Linked DNA regions of Homo sapiens: regions 1 and 3 are each linked to region 2. Evidence: fine-mapped expression QTL. A gene starts in region 2. Each other region holds a variant in brackets. All regions are shown on one strand. Distances are from middle to middle.

Region 1 (8,174 bases), 35 kb after region 2:
AAGGTCTGGGAGCTCATGGGAACCTGCCCTGTCTTGGGAGTGGTTAAAAATCAAGTTGGAGGCCAGGCATGGTGGCTCACACCTGTAATCTCAGCACTTTGGGAGGCCAAGGCAGGCGGATCACCTGAGGTCGGGAGTTCAAGACCAGCCTAAGCAACATGGAGAAACCCCCGTCTCTACTAAAAAAATACAAAATTAGCCAGGCGTGGTGGTGGGTGCCTGTAATGCCAGCTACTCAGGAGGCTGAGGCAGGAGAATTGCTTGAACCCGGGAGGCAGAGGTTGCAGTGAGCCGAGATTGTGCCACTGCACTCCAGGCTAGGCCACAAGAGTGAAATTCCATCTCTAAAAAATATATATATATATGACCAGGCACAGGTGGCTTACGCCTGTAATCCCAGCACTTTGGGAGGCCAAGGCAGGTGGATCACCTGAGGTCAGGAGTTTGAGACCAGCCTGACCAATATAGTGAAACCCTGTCTCTACTAAAAATACGAAAAACATTAGCTGGGCATGGTGTTGGCCACCCGTAGTCCCAGCTACTCGGGAGGCTGAGGCAGGAGAATCGCTTGAACCCAGGAGGTGGAGGTTGCAGTGAGCCAAGATTGCACCACCGCACTCGGCGACAGAGCAAAACTCCATCTCAAAAAAAAAAATCAAGTTGGATTCCTTTGCCAACCTCAGACTTGGGATGGACAGAGGGTATGGAGCATCCTTCAGAAGAGGACCTGGGATCACCCTGAGTCACCAGGCCTCATGAGTGGCCAGTTTGGGCTCACTGCAGAAAAAAAATGGGAGGTAGTGAGGCCCCATAACAGGGTTGTTGAGGAAGCAGCTTACGTACTTCATTCATTACAAGATATAATGATGTTTAAGATGGGACAGGTTTCTGCTGTCACAGGTCTTCTATTCTAGCAGGGGGTGTAGTTAATAAGTAAACAGGCTGGGCGCAGTGGCTCACGCCTGTAATCCCAGCACTTTAGGAGGCTGAGGTGGGCGGATCACGAGGTCAGGAGATTGAGACCATCCTGGCCAATGTGGTGAAACCCCGCCTCTACTAAAATACAAAAAAATTAGCTGAGCATGGTGGCAGGCATCTGTAGTCCCAGCTACTCGGGAGGCTGAGGCAGGGGAATTGCTTGAACCCAGGAGGCAGAGGTTGCAGTGAGCCCAGATCGTGCCACTGCACTCTGGCCTAGTGACAGAGCAAGACTCCATCTCAAAAAAGTAAATAAATTTTTAAAAAAATAAACAAATAACTTGATAATTTCAGGTTGTGATGGGTGCTGTAAGAAAGACAAGACAGTAATGTGATAGAGTGACGGATTGGGGCAGCAGAGGTGGGCAGTGACTTCAGATTAAGGGTTCAGGGTAGGCCTCAGAGGAGGCGACACTTGAGATGAGACTTGAGGGAGCCAACCGCTGAGATCAAGAAGGTAGGAAGAAAGAGCAAGTCCAGAAGTCCTGAGGCTGGAACAACCTTGAGTGTTTCAGGAACAAAGGGGAGTTTGGGAGGAGGCAAAGGCTAGAGAGGCATGAACCAAGTGGTGGGTTGTGGGAGAGGAACAGGGGCCAGGTCCTGCATGGCCTTTTAGGCATGTGGAAGCATTTGTATTTTGTTCCCACTATGAAAGGAAGTCACAGGGATTTGAGCAGGAGTCAGGCTCGGTCAGATTTGCATTTTTAGAAGGACCTTTATGGCTGTTGTGAGGGGCGTGGACTGTAGGAGGCAAGAGTGAAGGCAGGAAACCAATGAGGAGGCTGTGGCAGTAATTCCTGCCAGGGGTGCTGGTGGCTTGAGCCAGCGGAACTGGAGAAATTCAGGAAAGTGGCTGACAGCTTGCTGATGGGTTGGGTGTTGGAGGTAAGAGAATGAGGTATATCTGGTAGGCAGTTACCCTTGGACCCCAGGTCCCTTCCTCTTGGCAGGTTATGGGGCCAAACTGCCATCCTGGCACTGACGGCAGGGGGATGGTCTCCTGTGGTTGGGTCCCCAGGTCTAATATTTTGCTTTTCTCCCACTCTGGCCAGGTCTCCCCTGCCAAATCCACCCTAGCCCACTGAAGCGCTCCATGTCACTCATCCCTACAAGCCCCCAGGTCCCTGGTGAGTGGCCGAGTCCAGAGGAGCTTGGGGCCCGGGCTGCTTTTACCACGCCCGATCACGCACCTCTCTCGCCCCAGAGCAGCGTGGCCTCCTCTGGCAGTGAGCAGACAGAGGAGCAGGGCTCCAGCCGGAACACCTTCCAGGAGGATGGCAGTGGCATGAAAGGTACATTGGGGACAGCAGCACCAGGACCCTTTTCCAGGGGCTTCTGCAGAGCTTAGAGGACAGAAAGGAGCTTGTAGCTGACACCTGCTTACCCCTCTGAGGAGGGGACATGTCTGAGGGGAGTAGATAGTCCCTGCTTTTAGGGCTCAGGACTAAGCAGAGAGACCCCACATCTACCCTAACAAGTTCTAGTCTGACTGGGAAGGAGCCCCCTGTCTTCACACACCCCAGTCTGACAAGGAAGCCAGGACACAGCTAAGTGATGGAACAGAGGTTCCAGCAAGAGTTTTGGAGCAATCAGTGAGGTCATCCTGGTATACATCCAGCCTAGCAGCTTAGAAGGGTCAGATGTCCTTCCCAGGGAAGGCTGCCTGAGGGTCTGGCTAGGCAGATGAAGAAGGAGCTGATGGAACCTTAGCTCCCCCCAACCCCCTCCCAATTTTTTGCATCTTTTGAGGCTTCCTGTGGGTTTATCCCCACAACTTTTCCTTTACCCTGGTAATCTGGGCCAAACTCCTGACCTTTCACTCTCCCTCCTTTGCCAAAGATGTGCCCTCATGGCTCAAGAGCCTCCGTTTGCACAAGTATGCAGCCCTCTTCTCACAGATGAGCTACGAGGAGATGATGACACTGACTGAGCAGCACCTGGAGTCTCAGGTGAAGCCAAGGGGACCATCAGGGAGGTGCTGGGGGCAGCGCTAGTTTGGCATCCTTGCAGCCCAAGCCTCCTCTGTCTCCTTGATCTCTATTTGGGTACCCCCAAATATCTCAGCCTCACATCTCTAGCTTCCTGTCCCCTTCTGCCCTTATCACAGAACGTCACCAAAGGTGCCCGCCACAAGATAGCCCTGAGCATCCAGAAGCTGCGTGAGAGACAGAGCGTCCTCAAGTCCCTAGAGAAGGTGAGGACCTGGTTTCTGCATCTTCAAGGCCAGCCAGCCACTTGGTGGTACCAGTAGACCAAAGGCCCTGAGTTGGCCTCCAGACTCCTCGGATGTGGCCTCCAAAATTCCCAGCCCTAGGGACCCAGACTTCAGGGACCACATGCAAGCCGGCATCAAAAGGCTCACTTGCTGGTGGCTAAGAGTCTCCCCTCCCTGTCTTTCCTGGTTTGTGGTTCCAGGATCTCTGTCTTTTGACTCTACACCTTCTCTCCCCTTTTGCTTTTCCATTTCTTACTGGTCTTTCTGGTAGAGCAGAGTGTCTCTGTCTGTACAATCTCTCTTTCCATTTGATTGTTTCTAAACTCATTTTCCTTCCACATCTGATTCCGTTTCCTTGCCACTGCCTTCTGTTTGTATTTTTCCCTGCTCAGTGTCTAGGTCTGAATCTCTGATTCTATCCTTGTTGGGTCCTTGAGACTCCAACATTAGACTGGCTTTTCGTGAGTTCTGTGGGACTTCATCTTAATGGGAAAGAGGAAATGTGTACCTATATGTTTGTGGGCTTGCAGTACCCTTACATGCCTTCTCTATGTGCTGGAACCCAGGGTCCTACCCAGCCTTCTGCAAGCCCTGTCTGACTCTCTGTGTAGATACTCTCTGTCCCTCATTGTAGGGTCTGCATGTGACCCCAGCCTGTGTCCTCCCATCCAGGATGTGCTGGAAGGCGGGAACCTACGAAACGCTCTGCAGGAGCTGCAGCAGATCATCATCACTCCCATCAAGGCCTACAGTGTCCTCCAGGCCACCGTGGCTGCCGCCACCACCACCCCTACTGCCAAGGATGGGGCCCCGGGGGAACCACCGCTGCCAGGTGCTGAGCCTCCCCTAGCCCACCCCGGCACAGACAAAGGCACCGAGGCCAAGGACCCTCCAGCTGTGGAGAACTACCCACCTCCACCAGCTCCAGCTCCCACTGATGGCAGTGAGCCTGCCCCGGCTCCCGTCGCCGACGGAGACATCCCCAGCCAGTTTACACGGGTGATGGGCAAAGGTGAGACCAGCCACAGCCTAGCAGGAAATCCTGAGGCAGAAAGCCAAGTGAACCCAAGCACCAGGGATCAAATCCAAGTTCGATGGTGGGAGCAGGGCTTTGTAAAGCCTACTGGAGACTGGAACACTACAGAGAGTAGCCAAGACAGGGTGACAAGGCCCCTTGCCCTTGGGCACGTCTGGGCTGATGGTGGATAACAGCCCTTCCCCTCAAAGCGTCTCCAGGCTGAGCAGAAATGGGGCAGTGGGTCAGAAGAAATTCCATGTAGTAAAGGGTGAGCAGTTGAGGGGAGTCCATTGATTTCTCTCAGAGGGGACCAAAGTCCAGGGGATGGGGATGGTGAAATTTATCACAGCTTCAGCCTTTCCTAAAGCAGCATGATACAGCAGACTTTACACTTGGATCCAGATCAGTCTAGATCTGGATCTGGACCTGAGGCAAGTGACTCAACTCTGAGCTTTAGGTTTCTAAGGCTAAAAATGTGTGTAGTGACAAGATTGTGTCAGGCACTATGTTGTATATCCTCATGATAACCCA[A/G]ATACCATGGCTAGCACTTAATAGTTGATATTCATCCAGCCTGAGTCTCCTGTTCCTTCTTGTGCACGAGCCAGCTGGAGGCTGGAACATGGCAGAGGGCATACTAGGGGTTAACCTCCTGCCCTTTCTCATGTCCCCCCAGTGTGCACCCAACTGCTGGTGTCCCGACCAGACGAGGAGAACATCACCAGTTACCTCCAGCTCATCGAAAAGTGCCTGACTCATGAGGTAAGGCCTTCCCTAGCATACTCAAAAAGGGAAAGGCGGCCAGGCGTGGTGGTTCACGCCTGTAGTCCCAGCACTTCGGCCACCGAGGCGGGCGGATCATGAGGTCAGGAGATCGAGACCATCCTGGCTAACACAGTGAAACCCAGTCTTTACTAAAAATACAAAAAATTAGCCGGGCGTGGTGGCAGGTGCCTGCAGTCCCAGCTACGCGGGAGGCTGAGGCAGAATGGCGTGAACCCGGCAGGTGGAGCTTGTGGTGAGCCAAGATCGCGCCACTGCACTCCAGCCTGGACGACAGAGTGAGGGAAAGCCTGCCCCATCTTTCTCAAGACCATTGTGTTGTATGTGGCCCATAGGGCCTTACCTGACGTGGCACATGCCAGCCCTTCCAGTCTTGTATCTTACCAGTGTTGGCTTTAGAGGCTTCTTCTCAGAACCCTTGTACACACTCTTCCTCTCTCTCTCTCTTTTTTTTTTTTTTAATAGAGACGAGGTCTCACACTGTTGCCCTGGCTGGTTTTGAACTGACCTCAAGTGATCCTTCCACCTCAGCCTCCCAAAGTGCTGAGATTACAGGCGTGACGATTTTCTTTTTTAGAGATGGAGTATTGCTTTATTGCCTAGGCTGATCTCGAACTCCTGGCCTCAAGCGATCCCCTGCCCTGGCCTCCCAAAGTACTGGGATTATAGGCATGAGCAACCATGCCCAGCCCGTACATACTCTTTTGTCAGCAACAGTACCCTTTCCTCCTCCTCACCCCTCAGCTGTCAGTTCAAACATTTATACCTCAGGGACACCTTTACCAACCCCTCATTTTTATTTAAGTTTCTTTTGCTTCCTGTTCTTCTCCCTCAGGGAGGGATAATTTGTCACAGTTATCATCATGTATGTATCTTTCCCTCACAACCAGACTGTAAGCTCTCTGGGCATGGTCACCTCTGCATCCCAGAATTGCCTGGCACAGGCACAGAGTAGATGAGCAATGAATCTTTTTTTTGGAAACAGAGTCTCGCTCTGTTGCCCAGGCTGGAGTGCAATGGCGCAGTCTCGGCTCACTGCAACCTCCGCCTCCCAGGTTCAAGTGATTCTCCTGCCTCAGCCTCCCAAGTATCTGGGATTACAGACACACACTACCATGCCTGGATAATTTTTGTACTTTTAGTAGAGGTGGGGTTTCACCATGTTGTCCAGGCTGGTCTCCAACTCCTGACCTCAAGTGATCCACCCGCCTCAGCCTCCCAAAGTGCTGGGATTACAGCTTGAGCCACCACGCCCGGCCAGGCAATAAATATTTGAACAAATGAATGGAAGACTGGAAGGGAGGTCTGAAGGAAGCATCACCCTCTCTGCTTCACCGGTGTCCTGCCAATTCTAGGCTTTCACGGAGACGCAGAAGAAACGGCTGCTATCCTGGAAACAGCAAGTGCTGAAGCTCCTCCGGACATTCCCGCGCAAAGCCGCACTAGAGATGCAGAACTACCGGCAGCAGAAAGGGTAGGCGGGTGGCCAGGTTACAGGGACCTGCCCTCCATAGGCCTTTGCTGGTTAGCAGATCGTGCTTAGAGGGGTGATTGTGTTCTGGGCTGAGAATCTAGTTTTATTCAGTCACTGGGCGACTTTCCCAGAAGAAAATTTCCACTAGAATAGGATGCTGAGCTGAAAAACAACACATGTCCCATGAGCAGGCCCCTCATATGTACCTTGCTCCTCGCCTGTATGCAGAGGGCCTGGAAGTCCCTCCTTAGACCAGACAAATAACAGAAATGTCTCCTTTGAGAATTGAAGATTGGAGAACTGTTTTGAGTGGACAGTGAAGAAACCCTTGTACATGTCCCATCTCCTTCCAGGGGGTACCCTTGGGGCAGATGAGGACAGAATGTGTGATGGAGGTTTATGTTCTCTCCTACAACTTGGGGTTGTTGGGGAAGGTGAGGAAGGGGTGGACAGATAGGCCCCATCTATGTAAATTAACACCCTGCCTTCTGCTCTCTCATAGCTGGGCATTCGGCTCCAACTCGCTCCCCATAGCTGGCTCTGTGGGGATGGGAGTGGCCCGGCGTACCCAGCGGCAGTTCCCAATGCCTCCCCGGGCCCTCCCACCCGGCCGGATGGGCCTCCTGAGCCCCTCGGGCATTGGGGGTGTCTCCCCTCGACATGCCCTCACCAGCCCCAGCCTTGGAGGCCAGGGCCGACAGGTAAGCTGGCTGGAAGCAGGGGCCTGGCCTCCTGGGGTTGGGGTGGCAGTACCTGGGATGTCTATTTGCCTGTATACTCTGTGTCTGGACCCAGCTTAGAGGTGGCGGGGGTGGGAGTGGGAGAAGGCCTGTACCACCTCCACCACTCTTGGGTCTGGGCCTCTTCTGCACTCACTACTTTCTCTCTTCCTGGGACCTGTGTAGAACCTGTGGTTTGCCAACCCTGGAGGCAGCAACAGCATGCCCAGTCAGAGCCGCAGCTCTGTGCAGCGCACCCACTCGCTCCCGGTCCACTCGTCACCCCAGGCCATTCTCATGTTCCCTCCAGGTGAGGTGCCCCACCCTTGGGACTCTGCCTGGCCAACATCCTCAGCTGACCTTTCTTTTTTCTCCTGGGTCTCATGTCCACTGTTCTTCTAGACTGCATTGGCACCTCTCCCCATACCTCACACCACTCTGCACCCATCTCCCCCAATTGTGGGGGGTTGTTTTCCTCCTCTGCTTCAATTTTATCTCTCAGGTCTTGCCCCCACCCCTCTGAGTCATCATCTCTCACCCCTTACTCCTACCCCATCTCATGTTTCCCACCCTATGTCATAATCTTAGTGTCTGTGTTGCTCTTTGTCATCATCTCTTTCTTTACAGGATCATTGAATACTCAACTTAGAAGGGGTTGAGGGGATGGGACAGTTAAAGTGTGAGATTTCTGTGGAGGGGAGTCCTGCCCATCAGCCTACTGGGATTCTTTCAGATGCCAGGTGACCACACAGGAACCAGTGGACTTCACCTCTTAGAACAGGTGTTTGAAGTGAGAGGGCTGTTTTGACCTCTGCTTACAGACCATCCTGGAGATGGGAGAGCAGAAGTTGGGCCAAGTGCGGGCACAGTAACTCACACCTGTAATTTCAGCACTTTTGGGAAGCTGAGGCAAGTAGATCGGTTTGAGACCAGTCTGGACAACATGGCGAAACCCCATCTGTACAAAAAAATACAGAAATTATCTGGGCA
Region 2 (8,174 bases):
AGCCTTTCACCTGTATTCCTCTCAGCTGACATGCCCTTGTCAAGGTCACCCATGCACTCCACGGTGCTGGATCTAATGGTCAATTCTCACTCCTCCTCAGCCACATCTGACACAGCCCATCACTCCCTGTTCCCTGAAACATCGTCTTCATGACACCACACTTGCCTGGTTTTCTTTTTTTCTTTTCTTTTTTTTTTTTTTTGAGACAGGGGTCTCGCTCTGTCACCCAGGCTGGAGTACAGTGGCACCATCTCAGCTCACCGCAACCTCCGCCTCCTGGGTTCAAGCGATTCTCTCACTTCAGCCTCCCAAGTAGCTGGGATTACAGGCGTGAGCCACCACACCCGGCTAATTTTTTTTTTTTTTTCTTGAGATGGAGTGTCTCTCTGTCACCCAGGCTGGAGTGCAGTGGCACAATCTCGGCTCACTGCAACCTCCACCTCCCAGGTTCAAGCAGTTCTCCTGCCTCAGCCTCATGAGTAGCTGGGATTACAGGTGTGCGCCACCACAACCAGCTAATTTTTGTATTTCTAGTAGAGACGGGGTTTCACCATGTTGGTCAGGCTAGTCTCGAACTCCTGACCTCGTGATCAGCCCACCTCAGCTTCCCAAAGTGCTGGGATTACAGGTGTGAGCCACCGCGCCTAGCCATATTTTTGTATTTTTAGTAGAGACAGGGTTTTACCATGTTGGCCAGGCTGGTCTCAAACCCTCCCATGGGCCAGACACAGTGGCTCATGCCTGTAATCCCAGCACTTTGGGAGGCCAAGGCAGGAGAATTGCTTGAGACCAGGAGTTCAAGACCAGCCTGGGCAACATAGCAAGACCTTGTCTCTACAAAAAAATTTTAAAAGTAGCCGGGCATGGTGGCATGTGTCTGTAATCCCAGGTACCAGCTACTTGGGAGGCTGAGGTTGGGAGGATCACTTGAGCCCAGGAGTTTGAGGCTGCAGTGAGCTAGGATCACACCACTGCACTCCAGCCCAGGTGACAGAGTAAGATCCTATCTCTAAAAACCAAACAGCAGGCCAGGCGCAGTGGCTCACGCCTGTAATCCCAACACTTTGGGAGGCCGAGGCAGGCAGATCACTTGAGTCCAGGAGTTCAAGACCAGCCTGGGCAACATGGTGAAACCCCATCTCTACTAAAAATACAAAACTTAGCCAGGTTTGATGGCATACGGCTGTAGTTCCAGCTACTCCAGAGGCTGAGGCAGGAGAATCACTTGAACCCAGGAGGCAGGGGTTGCAGTGAGCCGAGGTTGCAGTGAGCCGCGATCGCACCACTACAATCCAGTCTGGGCAACAGAGTGAGACCCTGCCCCCCCCCCCCACACACACACACACACACACACACACACACACCAACAATGACTAAAATACTAAGTTATCTGTCACCACCCCTACCCCATTGCCTCTTGGACCTTGTCCTTCACTGCCCTCTTTTGCTCACTCCACTCCAGCAATGCTGGCCCCTTTGTGGTTCTGTGAATGATCCTACTACATGGCCTTTGCACTTGCTGTTTTCTCTTTCTGGAACCCACTTTCTCCTTCATTCCTTCAGATTTCTGTTTCAGTCTCACCTAATGAAAGAGGCCTTTCCCCATGTAAATTAATTCTGGCTGCATTACTCCATTCCCTTAGCTGCTTTCTTGTTATTTATTTGTTTATTTATTTAGAGACATAGTCTCGCTCTGTCACCTGGGCTAGAGTGCAATGGCAAATCTCGGCTTATTGCAACCTCCGACTCCTGGGTTCAAGTGATTCTCCTGCCTCACCCTCCTGAGTAGCTGGAACTACAGGCACGCATCACTATGCCCAGTTAATTTTTGGCATTTTTAGTAGAGACAGGGTTTTGCCACTTTGGCCAGGCTGGTCTCAAACTCCTGGCCTCAAGTGATCCACCAGCCTCAGCCTCCCAAAGTGCTGGGATTACAGGCATGAGTCACCATGCCCAGCCACTGCTTTCTTTTTCTCCTTGGTACTTATCACGAAGTTACACTGTATTTCCTTATTGTTTGTGTCCCCAAGAACTAGAATGTAAGTCTTTTTGTTTTTTTTTTGTTTTTTTTTTGAGACGGAGTTTCACTGTTGTTGCCCAGGCTGGAGTGCAATGGCACGATCTTGGCTCACTGCAACCTCCGCCACCCGGGTTCAAGCGATTCTCTTGCCTCAGCCTCCCAAGTAGCTGGGACTACAGGCATGTGCCACCACGCCCCGCTAATTTTGTATTTTTAGTAGAGATGGGATTTCACCATGTTGGTCAGGCTGGTCTCGAACACCTGCCTCGGCCTCCCAAAATGCTGGGATTACAGGTGTGAGCCACCGCGCTCATCCTATTGTTGTGTTTCTAGCACCTTAAGCAGAGCCTGGCACATATTAGATAGTCAAGAAATATTATTGAATGAATTAATGAACCAGCAGTTAATGAGCACAATAATTCTATGCAGTGTGAAGGCTGTTGCTTAAATGCAGGAGGTAGTGGATGGGGTTTGTGACATGGCCCCACCCTGGTGAAACAGCCTTTCCTCAAAGCGTCTATAATGCCACACTCTCCTGGTTTTCCTCTCTCTGGCTGCCTTTTGCAATATTCATCGACAGCGTCAATTCCTTTGCTCAAATCCTGCCTCTCTGTTTCAGGGTTCTGTTCAGTCCCTGTCTCCAGTGACCCTTCATACCCTCCCCGGGCTAGACCCCTAACTCCCACAGCCTCAATTACCATCTTTGACGATCCTTAAATCTTGGTCTCCAGCCTCAATTTCTCCCTTAAGCTCCAGACCCAGGGTTTGTGCACCTCCTGGACCTCGCTACTAGGCATCCACATTGGGCTTAGTATCTTCCCAACCTGCTTCTGGCGCCCAGTCTCCCGGCTAGAGGGGCCTGGTCCTAAACTTTTCTCCCCCTTCCACTCCATAGCCAGCCAGTGTCAGGGCCCGTTCGCTCTGCCTCCAGGGCGTCCCTCCCACCTGCACCTCCTTCCCTCCCCACAGTCCCTCCCTCGTGCAAACCCCCTCTTTCTTCCCCACCCCCTCCCCCAGCTGCCTCCCTGGACTCCCGATCCCGTTTCATTCCCTCCAATCCGCCCTCCATGTATAAGCCAGAGAGACATCTCTCCAAAACCCCAGACTCACCATGATCCTCCCCGGCTTGAAGCCCTTCACGGCTCCCTAGTGCCCTCGGGACAAGTCCAAACTCCCTCAAGTGGCCAAACAACTGGCCTCTGCTCGTTCCTCACCCCTCCCTGTCTTCAACTCGACCCTCCATCCCGACTGCCTCTCTAAGTGCCTGTAACAAGCCAGATCTCTGTCACCGAGAGCCTTCTGAACACAGGTCCCTCTGATTAGTTCACCCGGACCCAATACAGTTTGTGGAACGCACAGATCACAACCAAAGTCACAGCAACAACTCCCGTTTATTGACAGCCTCCTTGATCCTTAGCGCTTTCTGTGCATTCTCTTCCCACCCTAAAGGCTAGATCTCGCCTCGCCATTCCCATCGGAGAGAGCAAGCGGCAAGGCTGAGAACAGCGCGATGAGAAAGCCGAGCGCCCAGAAGCCCGAGTGCAGACGCCCACTGAGGACAGCCTTGGGTGAGGCGGGCCACCCAAGGGGCGGGGAAGAGGAGGCCTGGAACGCCTGAATCAGGAACTGTGACTTCGCTCGGGGCAGCTGGGGTGGACGCGCGCGAGCCTGCCCCCTGCGGGCCTGGAGGCCCAACCTCAGACTCCGCCGGGCCCGTTGCCCTGGGCAACGCCCCGCGCGCCCCGCCCCTTCCCCGCCCCCCAGCCCCAAACCCCAGGCCTGGCCGACTGCCCGTCACCCCCACGTCCGACCAATCCCGCCGAGGAGGGGGCGGGCCTCTTGGGCCCCGTTCCACCACCGTCGCTCCCCCCTCGCCGCGACCCCGCCTTACTCGGCTCACACCTCCCGCCCTTCGGGCTGCCCTCGCCGCCCGTTGGCTGGCGCGCCGTTCGTCACCCGGGCGTGAGCTAATGCCGGCGCGCGGCGGCCCCCGTCGGGGCGGGGCCAGGGGCGGTGACGCACGGCGCGGTGACGCAGCGCGACGGCGGCGGCGGCGGCGGCGGCGGTGGTCGGTGCGGGAGGAGGGAGGGGAGCTTGCGGGCCCGAGAGGGGGCGACGGCGGCGGCGGTGGCCTGAGGAGGCCCGAGCGGCGGCGGTGGCGGCGAAGGCCGAGGCGGTGAGTCTCGGGCCGGGCCGGCGCGGGGCGGCGGCGAGTCGGGGCGCGCGGGGCTCCCCTCAGGGCGACCCAGGCCGCGCGGGCGGCCCCGCCCCCTCAGGGACCCCGAACCGCGGGCGGCGGCGGCGGGCGGGTGCGGAACGCGGGCCTCGGGGGGCCGGGCCCCACGGGAGAAGCCCCGCGCCCGTCCCCAGTCTCCCTCCTGGGCCCTGGCCGAAGCTTCCCTCCGAAATCTTTCTCATGCCCTCGGGATTGCCGAGGGGCCGGGCCGGGGGCCTCTCCTCAGGACCCCCCGCACATCCCCCTCGGAGAGCCCCGGAAAGCCTGCCGATCCCCCGTGTGCGCCCTGAAAGGTCCCCGCAAAACCCACCCCTCCCGTGGAGTCGCCTCCTCGAGCCCTTCATGGGTCCCAGCAGCTTTCCTCGCAGACCCCCGCCCTTTGGCCCCGAAGCCCCCGTCCTCCTCCTGTCTCCAGAAATAGTCCTCGGAGGCCACTCCTCGTCCATTCCACAGCGTGGCTCTCATAGCTGCTCCAGGAGCCTCCCTCACGAGCCCTGCACACCTCCCCAAGGCTCCCTCCGGACCCCTGTCCATTCCAGAACTCTCCCCCGGAGCCCTGCCTCTCACAGCCCAACAGGCTCACCCGACTTCCCCCTCCCGGATCCTAAGAATTTTCCCTCCCACTTACCCCATTCCAGAAACCTCCTTGGAGATTTTCCGCTCATACCCCCTGCATTTCTGATTCCCCCTCCCAGAAGTCCTTCAGAATGCCCCCGACGGACCGTGATCATCTTCCCTGAAGATCTCCTTCCCATATCCCCAAAATAAATCTTCCTCACAGACTTTGTGAAATGCCCCCAGATCCCAAAAACTCACCTAGAAGACTCCATCCCCCTCCCCACCGTATTGCAACCATCTCTCATACACACTCCCCCTTCACGTATCCCTCTGGACCTTTCCACAGATCCCAAAAGTCTCCCCCAGAGGCCTCCTGTCTCCCCCTGGTCTCACCACCCTAAAATGCCCTAGAGATCACCCTCATGTAGCCCAGTGATCTTCACCGGGATCCCCTTCCCCACCCCCACTCATTCTAAAAATCTCCAGCAATTGCCTGAAATCTCCAGAGGACTCTCAGCATCATATTCCAAAAGCTTCTTCCAAAATCCCTTTTACATACTCCACATCTTTTCCAGTCCCCCACATCACACGCTCCAAAAATTGTTTAAGGATCCTGAAAACTTTCCTCATGGTTTTTCTCTCAGATCCCGTAGAACTCCCCTTCACTAACACCTCAGAATCCCCCCTTGCAGACCGGTTTTAGAGGAATTTTCTGAAGATCCTCCTCACAACCCCTGTAAGACCGTAAGATTCTCTTGGTGACCCCTCTGATATGCAGGTTTTCAGGACCCCCCCCCCCCACACACACACACAGCTTAGAGACCCCAGCGACCCCCTGGAGCCCTCCTGACGTATGTTCTTGAAATCCCTCCAAGACCTTCCTGACACCACCAGAACCCCTTGAATCAATACTTCTGCCTTACTAAGGGACTTTTCTAGAGATATCCCTCCCTGAACTTGCTCACACAGGTCCCCTAAATCCTCTAGAATCCCTTGAAGAAGACCCTCACACACACCTAATTTTCCCCCAAAATAACCCGAGCTCTTGCTCTGAGAAAGTCCTATAATTCTTTCTGAAAAACCCTCTCCTCTGACACTCTCTCAGAAGACCCCGCCTTCCCCATATACTCTTTTGGAGACTTTACTCAGCTTTCTCCTCAACTGAGATCTCTGAAGAGTTTTTCCTAAAAACATCCCTCTGTCATCCCACTCCAGGACCAGTCTCAGAAGACCACACCTTCCTCAGACACTTTTTAGAGAATTTTCTCCCAAATTGCCCTCCATCAGCCACCCACTCCCAGCGCTTCCTGAGACTTCCTCAGAACTTTCCCTCAGATTCCACTTCTGACATCCCCAAGAAACATTATTTAGGACCCTATCAGATTTACCCACTAACTTTAGAATTGCTATTTACACCCTCTCATTTCCCCATTCTCTTTCCTCTGAAGTCAACTCAGAGACCTTTCTCAGGGGGCCCCCTTTTCCCATTATCCCTTCAGAGGTCCCCAACATTCTCCAGACTCGTTGCCCAAGAGCCTCTATGTTTCCTTGTAAAGATTCTTGAGAGACACCTTTCCCCGCCCCCTTGAAATCCCAGTGCTCCGAGATCTTTCTTTCAGACCATTTTTCTTAGGTGCCATGCTCATAGACCCCTCTTCCCTTCAGAGATCAAGAGACCCTTAACACCCTCCTTAGAGACTTAGGATTCTCCCCATTTCCCTTTCAGAAGCCTTCTTCCTTCTCCCCTTTGAGGACCTCCTCACCAAATAATCCCTTCCCCTATAGCAGTGGTTCTCAGTGTGGTTCCTGGCCCAGCAGCAGCCACATTTGTTAGAAATACACATTCTTGAATCCCACTCAGATCTACTGAAACTGAAAACCTGGGAGCAGGGCCCAGCAATCAAGAGTTTTTAACAAACCCTCCTGGTCATTTTGATGCACACGCAAGTTTGAGAACCTGTGCCCTTTAGGAGGATTTCCTTTTCCTCACTAAAAGCCCCCTGAAAGATGCCTCAGGGTATGCCTCTGTGCCCTACTGCCCACTGCTGCTTTCCTGTTTCCTAGGAATCCCCTTTATGAAGTACCCATCCTCCAGAAAGATTTCTTACCTACCTTGAAAGGATCTTGGCTTCTCCACAAGGTTACTCCATCCTCTGAGCAGTTATTTCCGATTCTACTTTTGAATGGTTTCTTTTCAGATCTTCCTCAGTGCTTTCTCTTTCTGGCTACCCCTCCAGCCCACTACCAGCCTTTGGTGCTTCTTTAAATTGCTGCTTCTTTGAACACACATATCCATCTCTTCTTGTCCATCTGTTTCTTCACATAGGCACCCTCCCCTTGAGGCACCCTCAGGAGGTCTTTTCATTCTGTGTCTTACTGCCAAGACCCCTCCACCTCCATTGTACCTCTTAGAACACCACTCACCTTCAACCTTGTAGATTTTAATGTACTTGTCCACTCACCCTCACTGGACTAGGAACTCTGAAAGTACGGGATGTGTCTTGTTCTTCTCTGAATCCCACAAGGTGGGATCTACTCTTTGTAAGTTATTGGAAATCACTGGAGAATAAGCAGCTCTTCCTTCTGCATTTGGCCAGAAATCTCCAAGTTCCTCAGATCTCACTCCTCATTCAGGTTTAGTACACCTTCCCTGCCCCCTCCTCTCCTCTCACCTCCCTTTTTTTTCTCCACACAGCACCCTTTGCCTTTACTCCTGCCCTACTTGCTCCTGTCTTAGGGACTTTCTTTGTGCTGTTTCCTGATTCTGAGCTACCCCAAGTCCTTTGCCTGGTGACCTGCCTCACCCGTCCTGGTTGGCTTCTCTTAGCAGCCCCTCTCAGCTGCTAAGTCTGGAGCCTCCACAGAGCTCTTGGCATTTTTTCAAGGGATTCTGTTTCTAGGGCCCAGAAGGGGAAACAGAGACCCCAGGGTAAATATTGGGGCCTGCCTTCAGGGAGCTCACAATACCAGTAGGGGGCTTGGGCATGTACAGAGCAGAAAATGAGGTACAAATTATATGCTGTAGAAATTCAGCAGTGAGAGGGAGCCTTTTATTTGGAAAGACTTCACAGAAAAGGTGGTATTTGGGCTGGATAGTGTTCCATGGGAGTTGGGACAATGATGGTGCCCCCAGGCAGAGGAAACAGCTTAAGCAATGGGTCAAAGACAAAGCCTCCTCATCTCTCACCCATGGTATCTCTTCTCTTCACCCAAAAGATAGAGATGAAAGAAGACAGATTTCCTCCATTTGCATTGTATTTGCCAGCTGCACTTTAGTGACCTACAGAGTAATAATAATAATGACCACTGGTTTTTGAATGCTTTCTAACTGCCAGGCACTGTTTAAGTGCTTTACATGTA
Region 3 (8,174 bases), 20 kb after region 2:
CCAGTTCTGTTACTTGCCATATAACCAAGTAACTTAACCTCTCTGTGCCTCACTTTCCTGCGCGCCACCACGCCTGGCTAATTTTTGTATGTTTAGTAGAGACGGGGCTTCACCATGTTGGTGAGTCTGGTCTCAAACTCCTGACCTCATGATCTGCCCACCTCAGCCTCCCAAAGTGCTGGGATTACAGGCATGAGCCACCGCACCCAGCCAGTTTCCTCATCTTAAATTCAACATGATATCCTGAGAAGTATGTAACCTCAGTAAAAAAAAAAAAAGAAAAGGAAAGAAAAAAGATGATAATTATATCTACCTTCTAGGGTAGTTGTGAGGATTCAGTGAATTAACACGTGTGGCTTCCTACATGCCTGACATGTAGTAAACAATAACTGTCAGTTGTTAATTGTCAATAACTCACTTAGTCCTCACAACAACCCCATGAGGTAGGTCCTGTCATTAGCCCCATTTTACAAGTCAGGAAACAAGCATGGACTGCTAGGATTGGGTTTTGGGGAGCCACACAGCTGCCTGGCCTCCCTCATCTCCCCAGGCCCACCTGCCTTAGCAACAGTCACCCTTATTTTACTGAGTTTTTGTGTGGAAGTCACAGAAGCAGCATGATTGTAGCGGGAGACGGTTACTCAGGCCAGGGGTCACATCAGCTTAGTTCCTAGTCTGGCAGTAAGTTCTTAGTCCTAGACAAAGAGCAATAAGAACCCAGCTCAGCTGCAGCAGGCTCGGAGCTCAGCCATTTCTCACCCCTGCCACACTCCCCACCACTCTAACACTAAAGGCAGGAGTTCTGTTTGTGATATGACTCTGCCTTTATAGTGGGGGCTCCTGTGGGGCAGGCCAGTGTCTTACACAGCTTCGTCACACATCCCCACTGTCCCATCCTGAGCAGGCAGTTGGATTACCTCTGGGTGCCACTCTTAGCTGTATATCAGAATCACCAGTAGTACTTAGTAATTTCAGTGCTTTTAGTTTTTGCTTTTGTTTTCAGAACTTGCAGTAAAATCAGATAGTACAAAAGGTGAAAGTGAGGTTTTTCTTCCAGACTTCACGTTCTCATTTCCTTATGTTTTATGAGATAAATTCCCTGCATATATGAATGCATATATATTTTCCTTCCAACTTTGTCATTGTTTTGTCTTAATACATATGGCCAAACATGCATATTAACCAGTTTGGTTTTTTCACTTACCAATATGATTTGAAGATCATTCCGTATTCAGCACATACGTCTGTTTCTCGTTAAGTATTTATTTACACCTCACAACAACTCTGTACTCCCCTGTTACTCCCCCATTTTACAGAGGAGACTGTAGGTCTGGAGATATTAAATGACTTGCTGTGGGTCACACAATTGATAAGAGGTAGAGTTCAAATTTGACTTCAGAGTTCTTTAGAGCTCTTGACCAATAGACTCTTCCACATGGTACATGTGGTCTTCATCTTACAAACAGTGATGTAATGAGTACCCTTTAAACATCTCTAGGATGAACTCCTCAGATTCTGCAGAACTGCTAGTTTAAAGGTGTATGCAATTAAAATATTTGTTCTCCAGGCCAGGCGCGGTGGCTCAAGCCTGTAATCCCAGCACTTTGGGAGGCCGAGGCAGGCGGATCACGAGGTCAGGAGATCGAGACCATCCTGGCTAACACGGTGAAACCCCGTCTCTACTAAAAATACAAAAAAATTAGCCGGGCGTCGTGGCGGGTGCCTGTAGTCCTAGCTACTCGGGAGGCTGAGGCAGGAGAATGGTGTCAACCCGGGAGGCGGAGCTTGCAGTGAGCCAAGATTGTACCACTGCACTCCAGCCTGGGCGACAGAGCAAGACTCCGTCTCAAAAAAAAAAAAATAAAAAAATAAAATAAAATATTTGTTCTCACCACATTGCCCTTGAAAGACATGCTGCATTTTATACAAATAACCTGAGGCCCGTTCCCAGATGGTTTGCAGTGGGATATTGGTGGTAATGCCTAGCCAGGGTTGAGAAGTGCTGTGAAATGAATTGAATGATGAATGAATATATGAATCAAGGTTTTTATCCATAGCCCCATATCAGATGGTGAGAATAACAAGCTGGTACTTAAATGGGTGGAGAGGAAAGGAAAACTTAGAATGAGGGAAGGCCATGGTGTGTTCCAGAGTCAGCAGGAAGCCTGCCAGGACTGGAGCAAAGCATGACTTGAAAGAGAAGTGATCACAGAGGTAAATTCTGGTAGAGTCTTGAATGCCTGTTTTCTAGTAGACCTGAGGGCTCTAAGACTAAGAAGCAGGTGCCTCCTGTTTCACTCCTACCCTCAAGTAGAACCCCACCTGCCTTATTTGTAAAGGAAGGTGCTACTTTCTGGGCCTGGAGACCTGCCTCAAAGAAGGAGCTGTTCATACTCTTGTTTCTCCTCTGGTTATTATGGCCTTCCCATTCCCTGGTGTTTCTCAAACTTGCATCATCATCAGAATCACTGGGGTTAGGTGACTGTTACAATCCAGATTTCTGCCCCCCATAGACCTACTAAATCAGAATCCTGAGGGTATGGGCCTGGGAACGAGTACCCAGGTTCTTCTGCTCACCAGGCAGTGTGAGAGGTGATGCCCTGCTGGATGATTCATTTGTTGTGAGACATGAGACACCCAAGAGTTGTAGATCCAGCTCTCCACTAACACCTCTTGTGACCTGGGTCAGTCCTGCCTGACCCTCTCGGGCCTCAGGATCCCCATTTGGACAGTGAGGGGGTTGTTCTGGTACTTTCCAGGTACTTCTTGGGCTCTGAAATAATGTGCCAAAGAAGACAGAGCCACAGCCAAGCATACTACTTTCTTTTGGGAGAGGCCCAGCACATTATTCTAGGGCAAGAGTTCTTAATATTTAGCGGGATGGACCAGTTAGAAAATCTTCCCCTCCTCCCCACCCTCCCCAAAAAGATGCACACCTACTCCACAAACCAACTCTTGAGTTCAGTTGGTTCACTAGTCCCCAGTTAAGAGTTCCCTGGCCGGGCGCCATGGCTCACACCTGTAATCCCAGCACTTTGGGAGGCCGAGGCAGGCGGATCATGAGGTCAGGAGATTGAGACCATCCTGGCTAAAATGGTGAAACCCCGTCTCTACTAAAAATACAAAAAATTAGCCAGACGTGGTAGTGGGTACCTGTAGTCCCAGCTACTTGGGAGGCTGAGGCAGGAGAATGGTGTGAACCCAGGAGGCGGAGTTTGCAGTGAGCCGAGATTGCGCCACTGTACTCCAGCCTGGGCAACAGAGTGAGACTCCATCTAAAAAAAAAAGAGTTGCCTGTCTTCCCGGCCGGGCGCGGTGGCTCACGCCTGTAATCCCAGCACTTTCGGAGGCCGAGGTGGGCGGATCACGAGGTCAGGAGATGGAGACCATCCTGGCTAACACGGTGAAACCCCATCTCTACTAAAAATACAAAAAAATTAACCGGACATGGTGGTGGGCGCCTGTAGTCCCAGCTACTCAGGAGGCTGAGGCAGGAGAATGGCGTGAACCCAGGAGGCACAGGAGCTTGCAATGATCCGAGATCGCACCACTGCACTCCAGCCTGGGCGACAGAGCCAGACTCCGTCTCAAAGAAAAAAAAAAGTTGCCTGTCTCCAAGCCCTTCTTTAGCTTGGTCCCTTCAAACCTGGAGAGCTGAACAGTGAGGTAGATCCCCTGCTTTTTTGTGGGTTGTATCTCCATGTCCCACCGAACCAACCTTAGTACTTCCTCCAGTTCTCCAGGGAGACCTTGGGTGTGGGTCAGAGCTGCCCAGTTGTCTGCTTCCTGCTCAGATAGATCAGGTAGCACAGAGCTGACCTAGGTGAATATGTCCCTAGCTTTGTGTTAGAATCCCCCAGGGCCTTTCTAAAAATAATGTGAAGCCCAGGTCCTATCCCTGGAGATTTAAAGCTCCCTGGTTGACTCTTGGGTGCACCCAGTGGAGAACCACTTGTCTTGATGCTGACGCTGATTTTGGGTAGGCCCGGGAAGCTGGTGAGGATACTGTTGTGTGACCTACTAGAAGTGGGGAGTCGGGGCTTATAGCTGTGGAAAGCCTGGCCTAGGTCATCGCTTCCTCTCAGGCAGCTGGGAAGGTATAGGGAAGTCCTCCAGCACAGGCAGCCAGCATCAGTTTCATGGAAGTAGGACATGAGGCGCAACACCTAGAAACAGAAAAGCAATATTCCAAGGGTCTCTGGAACAGGGAAGAAGAGGTCCCAGGTTACCCCTTGTTGTAATCCCTGTTTGTTCTCCAGGTGCTGTCTTCCCTGCCTCTTTGGAGCTAGAACAATAACCCTGGTCCTCTCCTTTCCTCTGATGCTGACTTGGACCAGAAGGCTGTTCCTATGGACAGGAGGAAGGAGACTAGGGGGGTCAGGGGAGCTGAATTCCACTTCCCTCCACTGTCCTGTAGCTTCCTGGGAGACATTTCCTGCATTTTCTTCCCACCTCCTATTCTGAGTCAGTCCCCATATCTAGCAGGTTTAAACTCCTCCCTCTCTGGCTCATTCAGTCTGGGTGGGGAAACTGAGGTCAGGAGGGGCAA[T/C]GGCAAGTGAGTCATCAGAGCTCAGCCCTGTCCTCCACCCTCCACTTTCAGGCTCTGCTTGACAGTTCATCAAACAAAAATGTGAGCCCCCTGCCCTCCCCTGTGTCCATGTGAGCAGGGGTGAGGCAGAGAAGGTCATGTTTAGAGCCAAACCCTAGCCCCTCTGACTGGTGCCTGAGGCTACTCCAATTGTTGCACCAGGCCAGTACATAAAAATGGGTTTGCTCTTAGAGCAGTCTCGATTGGTGCCTGTAATTTGCCAGGACCCAGGGTCATGACCTACTTAGCTCTAGTCACCTGGCCAGCTCTGCCCTGCTGCCACTATAGCCAGGGAGGACATTTATACGCACAGCATTCCTCAACCTCTCCATGTTTGCAGAGTCCAAGTTTGCAGCTTGGTGAGAAGCAGCCGTTGGTGTCTTGGCATTCCCCAGCCCCTTCCCCCATCTGCCCACCTCCAGAATTTCATCATTGCTTGTTGTACTTCTAGCTCCAAGGAATCAGAGATGTGTCTGTTTTTGGTAAATAACTGTATGAAATTCCCCACCCCTGTCGGGAATCTTAAGGGGAAGGCCCAGATGTGCTTTTGTACATGAACTGTTCCCACCAGCCCTGAAACAGCATGGGCTCTAGATTCAACGAGGAGCAACAACAATAATAGTTAAAATGTACTTGAGCACTTACCACATGCCAGACGCTTTGCATGATTGTCTCATTGACTCTTTACAACAATCCTGTGAGGTAGAGGCCTTACAGTCCCCATTTACAGAAGAGACCAAGGATCAGAGAGGTTAAAGGACTGGCCCACAATGATATTGAGTTAGGTCATGGAGGCAGAGCTAGATTTTGAATCCAGCAAGTTTGCCTGTTGAACTTGTGCTCTTACTTAGTATACTCTGCTAGGACCTGAGACAGAGTACACCACTACCTTCCAGGGGACCATCTGGGTTCAATTGTGCAGGTATTCGTTGGGCCTCTGCTGTGCCTCCACTCTGGGCCAGGCTTTTTCTGATCTGGGCAGGAAACTAGAAGTTCCATCCCCACCCATTATTTACAGCCCCAGCTGGGCTCACCCCAAGGGGCCTGAGGCTGCACAAATTACTTGGGCCAGTTCCAGTGCTCACTGATGCTTCTCAGTCATGGGAGGCCCGCCCTCCCCACCACCACCACACAGACACATGAACACACATTTCCCCAGAATCAGCCTCCATTTGTCCAAAACCACTCTCCCCTTTCTCGGCAGCAGAACAAGGTCCTGCATTGAGCCCAACCCTTGGGGCTGTTCTGTCATGTCCCCTGGCAGTACCAGAGAAGCTGTGTCCCTTAGCCCTGGGGTCCTGGCAGTACTCTGGAGTGGGGAAAGGACTAGACAAGGCTTCTCTCTGTCCCAGATGCCTCTGGCTATGCTGCAAGGCCTAAACAACAGCGATTGAGAATGTCAGGGTAGGGCTGGAGGGGCAGGCTGACTCGACTACTGGAGAAGAGAGGAAAACACCCGTCACTGAGCCACAGACTGAATGTTTACTATGAGTACACTCTGTCAGATGCTTTTCATGCATCATCTCCCTACATCTTCTCAGCAGCTTTATAATCCTTACTTTACAGAGGAGGAAGCATACTGCCCAGGCCACTGTGTGTTTTTGACTGGGGTGCATATCCTTGACTTATTTTTATTTTTTTTTATTTTCATTCTTGACTTTCTGTCCCTAATGGGAATCACTGTCTTTCTTCTTTCTCATCAAGAACTGAAAACTACAGGACTAAGTTATCAAACAGGGTACCACAGAGTTCTTATCGTTTGATCCAGTGCCAGGTGGAGTTGGGAGGGCAGGAAAGACAAAAGTTCTGTGACTTCAGTGAGGCCTTTTCTGCCTTGGAAAATGATCTTTAGATGTGGAGATGGCCTGAAGGACAGCTTCATAATCTTGGCAGTCGGTTCAAGTGAAGACAGACAAGGGAATGAGGTTTCCTAGCTTTGAGTGGCAGATGCTGAAGGGGATCTGGAAATCCAGGGAAGAAGAGAGACTTGGGATTGGAGAGATAAAAGGTTGTGGGTAAAAAGTTCCCCCCTGGCTGGGCGCAGTGGCTCACACCTGGAATCCCAGCACTTTGGGAGGCTGAGGCAAGTGGATCACGAGGTCAGGAGATCGAGACCATCCTGGCTAACACGGTGAAACCCCATCTCTACTAAAAATACAAAAAAAAATAAATTAGCCGGGTGTGGTGGCGGGCGTGTGTAGTCCCAGCTACTCAGGAGGCTGAGGCAGGAGAATGGTGTGAACCCAGGAGGCAGAGCTTGCAGTGAGCCGAGATCGTGCCACCGCACTCCAGCCTGGGTGACAGAGCGAGACTCCGTAAAAAAAAAAAAAAAAAAAAGTTCCTCCCTGCCGGACACCATGGCTCACACCTGCAATCCCAGCACTTTGGGAGGCCGAGGCAGGTGGATCACCTGAGTTTAGAAGCTTGATACTAGCATGGCCAATATGGCAAAAGCCCGTCTCTACTCAAAATATAAAAATTAGCCAGGTGTGGTGGCGTGCGCCTGTAATCCCAGCTACTGGTGGGGGCTGAGGCAGGAGAATTGCTTGAATCCAGGAGGTGGAGGTTGCAGTGAACCGAGATCATGCCACTGCACTCCAACTTGAACAACAGAGCAAGCCTCCATGTCAAAAAAAAAAAATGGAGGCACACAGAGCCTGGATTCAGATCTCAGCTGTGTCGCTTAATGGGCTCTGTCACTTAGGGTGTGTGACCTCACCTTCCCAAATCTGTTTTCTCACCTGCAAGATGAGCACACCAAAACAGGATTAAAACAGGGATGAAAAGCAATCATTTTTAGCATAGTGTCTGGCACATAGTAAATGCTCAATAAACAGTATCCTTCATTCTGAATGAAAGTGCCATATGTTATTGCTATTGTCAGTAGTAGCAACAGCAATAGTGGTATTGGTTCTACTATTAATTTTAACCAATGCTGTAGACATAGTATGAGTTGATGACTTTGAATGAATGGATTTAACAGGTGTTCCCTTGGCTGGGCACAGTGGCTCATGCCTGTAATCTTAGCACTTTGGGAGGCTGAGGTGGGCAAGTCATTTGAGAGCAGGAATTTGAGACTAGCTTGGCCAACATAGTGAAAAAAGTAACAGGCAGGACACGGTGGCTAACGCCTATAATCCCAGCACTTTGGGAGGAAAGGTAGGTGGATCACCTGAGGTCAGGAGTTCCAGACCAGTCTGGGCAACATGGTTAAACGCCCCCTCCACTAAAAATATAAAAATTAGCCGGGTGTCATGGTATGTGGCTGTAATCGCAGCTACTCAGGAGACTGAGGCAGGAGAATCGCTTGAACCCCAGAGGCAGAGGTTCCAGTGAGCCGAGATCGTGCCACTGCACTCCAGCCTGGGCAACAAAGTGAGACTCCATCAAAAAAAAATAGCCAGGCATGGTGGTGCACGCCTGTAATCCCAGCTACTTGGGAGGCCGAGGCAGGAGAATCACTTTAACCCGGAGGCGGAGGTTGCAGTGAGCTGAGATCACTGCACTCCAGCCTGGGCAATAGAGCGAGACTCCATCTCAGAAAAATAGAAAACAAAAACTAACAAACAGGTGTTCTCTCTTGGAA

What was found. PIP is the estimated chance that this variant, and not a neighbour inherited with it, causes the effect.
Region 1: its variant is the best candidate, but not a certain one, in a credible set for the expression of SAMD4B in whole blood (INTERVAL, PIP 0.63).
Region 3: its variant is the best candidate, but not a certain one, in a credible set for the expression of SAMD4B in visceral fat (GTEx, PIP 0.54).

What each region holds. Positions count from the first base shown.
Region 1 is chr19:39,373,620-39,381,793 of GRCh38, forward strand. SAMD4B (sterile alpha motif domain containing 4B) reads left to right here. Exons shown (of 14, transcript NM_001384574.2): 5 at 2,031-2,270; 6 at 2,818-2,927; 7 at 3,086-3,172; 8 at 3,866-4,205; 9 at 4,885-4,970; 10 at 6,347-6,465; 11 at 6,968-7,166; 12 at 7,371-7,494. Among named protein-coding and RNA genes, the nearest start is that of PAF1, 13 kb to the right of the region's middle. The variant A/G (reference allele first, on the strand shown) is at 4,743.
Region 2 is chr19:39,338,381-39,346,554 of GRCh38, forward strand. It overlaps SAMD4B (sterile alpha motif domain containing 4B), which reads left to right and starts at 4,041. Exons shown (of 14, transcript NM_001384574.2): 1 at 4,041-4,196. RefSeq lists a silencer at 3,730-4,159.
Region 3 is chr19:39,358,338-39,366,511 of GRCh38, forward strand. All of the region lies in intron 3 of SAMD4B (sterile alpha motif domain containing 4B), which reads left to right. Among named protein-coding and RNA genes, the nearest start is that of SAMD4B, 20 kb to the left of the region's middle. The variant T/C (reference allele first, on the strand shown) is at 4,550.